Homo sapiens: one gene and its partner. The protein of the gene in region 1 interacts with the protein of each later gene in a biochemical or structural test. Each region holds a gene or a part of one and is shown on either strand. Other genes may lie near its edges.

Region 1 (3,655 bases):
CTTTTAGGAACTCAGGAGCTGAGTTCTAGTTCTCTACAAAAGTAGAGAACTTACGATTTCTTTATAGGATTATAACTAGTTTTTAATATTAACACATAATTGCATGTGTGTAATCGTACATGCAACGTGTTTTGTACTTTTTAGGTTGACAGGTATTCACATCCTACTAAATGATTGTTTAAGTTAAGCTATTTTGCTAATAGCGACCTTAGAATATCTTATAGTTCCTAATGTTACCTAATTTCATCACAGGCAATTTGAGTATAGCTAAAAGCCAAAAGAACATATTTCCTACAACCATTGAGTTTATACATTAAGAAATTGAATCATGGAATAGGCATTTTTAAAGTCATTTGGAATTTGATAGCACAGGAGTAAATAATTTTTATTTTTATTTAAATTCACATAGAGTAGCATGTGGTAACCCAATATTTTGATACTTGAAGTGGTTTTTTTTTGAGATTCTATTTTTATTATTAAATGTAATTGGGTACCGCTGTGCAGTCTATGTAGTCTAGTTTATGTAGTCCAGTAATTTTTTATAACTATCCAAGCAGTCAAAACTTAATGAAAAAAAGTTAAACTTAGAAAATTTTTTCTGGACTTCTTGAAAGTCCTTCCTATTGTTGAGACATGCGCTGCAGCAGGGCTTTCATGTCTAAGTTAAAACATAGCATGGAAATGTGGCCTAAAAGAAATTTGTGAGTAAATAAAATTTGGTATATACTTTAATCAGATGAAAGTGTAAAAACTTTCATATTATTAAAATAGTCTCTTGTTCCGTTAACATGAAAAGGAGATTGTATATTTATGTATGCAAGTCAGAAAATCTCTAATAAAGTAAGCAAGTGAGCTGCAGAACACTAGTCATGAAAGCCCAATATACAATGAAAACAATGATTGCTCAGCTGTGAAAATAATTTTTGGAGTCAAGTAAAATGTTAAGCTTGTTAGCGTTTGCTTATTAAGTAGGTTAATGCTGTTTAGAAAATGACCAGTTGCAAAGACAAAGACAATGCTGAAGTGAATGTTTGCATGACTTGCTTTTAGTTTTGCTTGCTCCTTTCTGATTAAATATTTTTCCCCCTCCTAAATGCAGGGCTTCAGATAACAGGGAGCGTGCTTATGAACATAGTGCCTATGGACACCATGAACGGGGGACGGGAGGATTTGATCGGACAAGACATTACGATCAGGATTACTATAGAGATCCTCGAGAGCGGACTTTACAACATGGGCTCTATTACGCTTCTCGGAGTCGAAGTCCAAATCGCTTTGATGCTCATGACCCCCGATATGAACCTAGGGCTCGCGAGCAGTTTACACTGCCCAGTGTGGTACACAGGGATATCTACAGGGATGATATTACCCGGGAGGTACGAGGCAGAAGGCCAGAGCGGAATTACCAGCACAGCAGGAGTCGGTCACCACATTCATCCCAGTCTAGAAATCAGTCTCCTCAGAGACTGGCTAGCCAAGCATCTAGACCCACAAGGTCCCCTAGCGGCAGCGGCTCTAGAAGTAGATCCTCCAGTAGTGATTCAATCAGCAGCAGCAGTAGTACCAGCAGTGACAGGTAGGTTAACAGCCTTTTGTTATAACAGATGAGCTAGCTTTAAACAAATTCTCAACAATCAGTGGGAATGGTTTCAGCATAGTATTATTTTTTAAAGTAATCTTGGATCATATATGTATGTAATCAGTAAAGAAACTGGCATGTGGCCATTGAATTAACTGTTCTAAGTACTCGAAGTTAAGTGATGATTTGCAAAGTTCTGTTTCATCCTCCAGATGCACAGTATTAAAATTAAATGATCAAAGTGGAAGGGAGGTGGTGACTCTAGCTGTGCAAGGCAAATCTTGTGACACTGAAAATATGGTATCTCTTTAACATTTTTAATTTTGTAGGTGTATAATACCAATTTATTTCTATTATTTTGATTGAAGATTTGTAAAAGCTGTTTGGTTAAATATGTATTGGTGAAATATAATATTGTTGACACATTTATTATCAATGACTAGATCAACTTATGAACAAATTTTAGCTAATTTTAACATCAGGGTGGTAGCCAATTTATAAACTCAAGTAGAAAAGCTTCCTTTGAATGCAGGTTGTAACTTTACTGTTCTGTAAACTGATCTCACTAGTTGAGAATTTCTTTCTACAAATATATATATATATTTTAAAGACAGTCTCACTGTGTCACCAAGGCTGGAGTGCAGTGGTGTAGCCTTGGCTCACGGCAACCTCTGCCTTCTGGGTTCCAGCAGTCCTCCTGCCTCAGCCTCCCAAGTAGCTGGGATTACAAACGTGCGCAACCACGCCTGGCTAATTTTGTATTTAGTAAAGATGAGGTTTTGCCATGTTGGCCAGGCTGTTCTTGAACTCCTGACCTCAAGTGATTTGCCCACCTCATCCTCCCAAATTGCTGGGATTACAGGCATGAGCCAGAGTGCCCAGCCAAAAAGTTTTATTTGAAAAGCGAAAATAGTAAGTTGAGGGTAATCTTAATAAGAAACTTAGCTTCAAACCTAGTTATATGGATTTTGAAATCACAGATCTGGGTATGTGGTATAGATTATCCTTTAAGTAATCTAGGATAAGTTATTTATGTTCTTCAGGTCTCAGCTTTCCCTTTTTTTTTTTTTTTTTTTTTTTGAGATGGAGTCTCGCTCTTGTCACCTAGGCTGGAGTGCAATGGCGTGATCTTGGCTCACAGCACCCTCCACCTCCTGGGTTCAAGTGAGTCTTCTGCCTCAGCTTCCCATGTAGCTGAGATTACAGGCACCCATCACCATGCCAGGCCAATTTTTGTATTTTTAGTAGAAACGGGGTTTTACCGTGTTGGCCAGGCTGGTCTCTAACTCCTGACCTCAGGTGATTCACCTGCCTTGGCCTCCCAGAGTGTTGGGATTACCAGTGTGAGCTACTGCGCCTGGCCAAGCTTTCTCATTTTTAATAAGGACCTTAATAAAGTTATTGTGAAAATTAAAATGAACACTTAATGTAAAATGCTTACTTTGATACCTAGTATATGTTAAAAAAAATGCTGCTATTCAATTTGTTAATCCCACATGTCCTGCTTTTCAATTTAGGTGGTATATATTTAAAATTTACAGTCAAATTCTTTGACCTGATTAAAAGGCTCAGATTACTTTTCTTTTGCCTGCTTAAAATTAATTTAAGCAAATGGTCATGTAGTTGAATGTCTGTTTTTAGGCTTCCTGAATTTTCTTATTCAAAATAATACATGAAAACATTTTGTTTATCCCTCTGCCTATCTAGATATAATTCAAACATTCTGGAAGATTTGCATATTAAAATGAAACAAGCACCTAGTTTAGAAAGTCATGAAAGTTACGTTCTATGCCCAGCTTTCAAGCCGTGTGACATGGATGAAAACTCTTAACTTCTTTTGATTTTATTTGGTGTGCTGTCTAGATAAATGATTGATGAAATTCATTTGAACCCTATAAACTAATTATAAAATCTTGTTCCACTTTTTTTTCTGCATAGAATTGTCTAAAATGCTCAAGTTTTAGTCATTTTCCATAAACCTACCTCATTAAAAAGCTGCATCTGCATTCCACTGGATCAAAACTTATTGAAAAGGTGTTGAGGCACTGGGCGTGTGGCTCACTCACGCCTGTAATC
Region 2 (3,655 bases), on another chromosome or scaffold:
ACACACCCTCAGTTCTTCCTTCATGTTTTCAGATAATAACATAGTATACTGCATTAAAATTCTAGACTAGAAATTCCCTTAAAGCTAGCACTATATAGGATTTATTCTTATTCACAAGGTCTGGCACATAGTAAGTGCCCAAAAAACATTTCTTGAACATTTCTTTGTGTCTCCATGAACACTGGGGCTTGAAAGAATACTTTTGGGGTTGTTCATATTTCAAAACTCATTAATTAATAAGGGTGTCACCAGAAGTTTTGCAAGAAACTAAACTTACCATGGGAAAGTTCTTTTTTTTTTTGAGACGGAGTTTCGCTCTTGTTGCCCAGGGTGGAGTGCAATAGCGTGATCTCAGCTCACTGCAACCTCCGCCTCCTGGGTTCAAACGATTCTCCTGGGTTCAAGCGATTCTCCTGCCTCAGCCTTCCTGAGTAGCGGGGATTACAGGTGCGCACCACCACACCCGGCTAATTTTGTATTTTTAGTAGAGACAGGGTTTCTCTATGTTGGTCAGGCTGGTCTCGAACTCCTGACCTCAGGTGATCCGCCCACCTTGGCCTCCCAAAGCACTGGGATTACAGGCGTGAGCCACCGTGCCCAGCCTACCATAAGAAAGTTCTAATACAGACTCACATACTACACTTTAGATTCAGGTTGATTATGTTTTAATAGTACTCCAGTGTAATGATACAGCTATAAAGCACTGCAATATTAAACTTATAATAGGTAATCAAGAAACAAATGTAATATGAAGCATTTCTCATACATAGGGACATAGGGAAAGTTACAGAATTAAAGTATATTAAAATTTAATATTAAAACCTTGAGCTTAGCTTCATATGGTGTATCTTTTAACACAAATAATATTTACTCATCTCAACCACAATTGCTTAATCCTCTAAAACTCCTTGCACGTCATAAAAACCTTTTAACTGTTATTTCACTGTACTGTAATTATCTGTTTACACGACTCTACTAAGACTGCAGGCTGTCTGAAGGTAAGTGGCCATTCACTTTTGTATTTCAGTGCTACGGGTTTGTCAAATGACTTTATGTAGTATTTTTATGTCTATATCCTGCAAAGAATTTTATAGAAGAAAATTAAATTTAGAGGTTAGGTAATTAGGCTAAGATCACAGAGCAAGTGGGTAAATGAAATCAGAATTCAAATGCAGGTCTTCAGTCAACAAATTGTATACGTTTTCCACTATCTCATACATATTACCACAAGTAAATAACAGCAAGTTGTATACAAACTATGTTCTGTGGTTAAAAAGCACCAATTTGACCATAAAAATGAATCACAAAAACTACAATTGTAAATGTCCTCTAAAAATGAGATCTGGCTGGGCGCAGCTCACGCCTGTAATCCTAGCTGTTTGGGAGGCCAAGGCGGGAGATCACCTGAACTCAGGAGTTTGAGACCAGCCTGGGCAACATAGCGAAACCCTGACTCCACAAAAAATACAAAAACTAGCTAGGTGTTCTAAGGTGAAGGATAAGTTTAAAAAAAACAAAAACAAAAACAAACTAGCTGGGCATGGTGCGTGCGCCTGTAGTCCCAACTACTTGGGAGGATGAGGTGGGACAATCACTTGGGCCCGAGAGTTTGACACTATAGTGAGCCATGTTTGCACCACTGCACTCCAGCATGGGTGACAAAGCAAGACCCTGTCTCAAAAAGAAAAAGAAAAAAAGATCAGCTGGGCACAGCAGCGGACACCTGTAATCCTAGCACTTTGGGAGGCTGAGGCCAGTGGACTGCTTGAGCCCAGAAGTTCAAGACCAGCCTGGGCAAAAAGGCAAAACTCTGTCTCTACAAAAAATACATAAAATTAGCTGGGCGTGGTGGTGCACACCTGTAGTCCCAGGTACCCAGGAGGCTAAGGTGGGAGGAACACCTGAGCCTGGGAGGTTAAAGCTGCAGTGAGCTGTGACCATACCACTGCACTCCAGCCTGGGCAACGGAGTGAGAACCTCTCTGAAAATTAATTAGTAAATAAATAAATACATGAATATATAAATAAATAAATAAATAATGAGATCTTTGGGCCAGGCGCAGTGGCTCACGTCTGTAATCCCACCACTTTGGGAGGCAGAGACAGAAGGATCACTTGAGGCCAGGAGTTCAAGACCAGCCTGGGCAACATAGTGAGACCCTGACTCTACAAAAAATAAAAAATTAGCCAGGCATGGCAGCGTGTGCCTATGGTCCCAACTACAGGAGGGAGGCTCACTTGAGAATGGGAGGTTGAAGCTGCAGTGAGCTGTGATCACACCACTACACCCCAGCCTGGTGACACAGTGAGACCCTGTCTCAAAAAAAATAAAAAAAAAAAAAAGATATCTTTGAATTTAAAGATGGCCATTAAATGTACAAAATTCAACAGTGGACTGAATTAAAAAAAAGTATATATACATCATGGAATACAATGAAGCCATAAAAAAGAACAAAATTATTTTCTTTGCAGCAACATGGATGCAGATGAAGCCATTACCCTGAGCAGACAACAGAAATACTGCATGTTCTCATTTATAAGTGGGAGCTACACATTTAGTACACATGGACACAAAGAGGGGAACAACAGGTACTGGGACCTACATGAGGGTGGAGGGTCAGGGGGGTGGGAAGAGGGTGGGGATTGAAAAACTACCTATGGGGTACCATGCTCACTACCTGGGTGATGAAATCATTTGCACACCAAACCCCAGCAACATGCAATCTATCCATGTACCAAATCTGCACATGTACCCCCGGAACCTAAAAGCTGAAATAGAAATAATAAACAGGACTGTCATACAAAGGTATACAAAGCCACTACAGTCTCAACAAAATACTGCTGTAAGTATTTAAGAAAAGATTTTACCTTGTACTTCTCTATCATGACATTCTTTTAGTTTTGTCCAAAGGTCCTTAAAGTCACTAGATGTATCTGCAGAGTTAGGGCTTCCACAGCTGCTTCCCGAGATGTTCATCTTGCTTAATATGCTCCACACTTCTACTTGCTTAATATTTTCTGACCTTTTCTGTTACATTATAGAGGTATCAAGTCGTCTTTGGACAGGTCAAATACCTGAAATGACAGATTGCAACATAAATGAACTTTGCATTTATCTTTATGTACTTTGAAATCAGGATGAAACACAAGCCCAGATATCCTCATTTACCATTTCCTTATTTACCTATAATCAATCATTTTTAGAATTTGGGAGGGGAAGGAAAGAATAAGGAAAGATGATAATGGTGAGAAAAGTTCTGATTTCAGTTATTTGGCTATATGAGGTAAATTTTCAGGCAAATTTTCTTATTTCTCTTAGAGGAAGAAATTATCTCAATTATATTAAACAGAAAGGATTCAGATATTGAGGGGTTTTTATCATTCATGGTCAGTATTAATTTACCACTATAGACTAATGTATTGTTTTGGCTGGGGGAGATGGCTCTTGCCTGTAATCCTAGCTCTTTGGGAGGCTGAGGTGGGCAGATCACTTGAGGCCAGGAGTTTGAGATCAGCCTGGCCACCATGGTGAAACCCCATCTTTACTAAAAATACAAAAATTTGCCAGGTGTGGTAGTGCGTGCCTGTGGCCCCAGCTACTCAGGAGGTTGAGGCAGGAGAATTGCCTGAAACTGGGAGGCGGAATTTGCAGTGAG

What was found. Proteins that work in one complex are often made in the same cells at the same time.
Region 2: the proteins of SPEN (region 1) and RBBP8 form a complex in vitro, tested with the Homo sapiens proteins (one study listed by BioGRID).

The regions. Positions count from the first base shown.
Region 1 is NC_000001.11:15,875,103-15,878,757, forward strand, and holds part of SPEN (msx2-interacting protein), read left to right. Parts: intron 1-1,099; coding exon 1,100-1,576; intron 1,577-3,655. UniProt on the Homo sapiens protein: May serve as a nuclear matrix platform that organizes and integrates transcriptional responses. In osteoblasts, supports transcription activation: synergizes with RUNX2 to enhance FGFR2-mediated activation of the osteocalcin FGF-responsive element (OCFRE).
Region 2 is NC_000018.10:22,936,173-22,939,827, reverse strand, and holds part of RBBP8 (DNA endonuclease RBBP8), read right to left. Parts: intron 3,075-3,655; 5' UTR 2,977-3,074; coding exon 2,868-2,976; intron 1-2,867. UniProt on the Homo sapiens protein: Endonuclease that cooperates with the MRE11-RAD50-NBN (MRN) complex in DNA-end resection, the first step of double-strand break (DSB) repair through the homologous recombination (HR) pathway.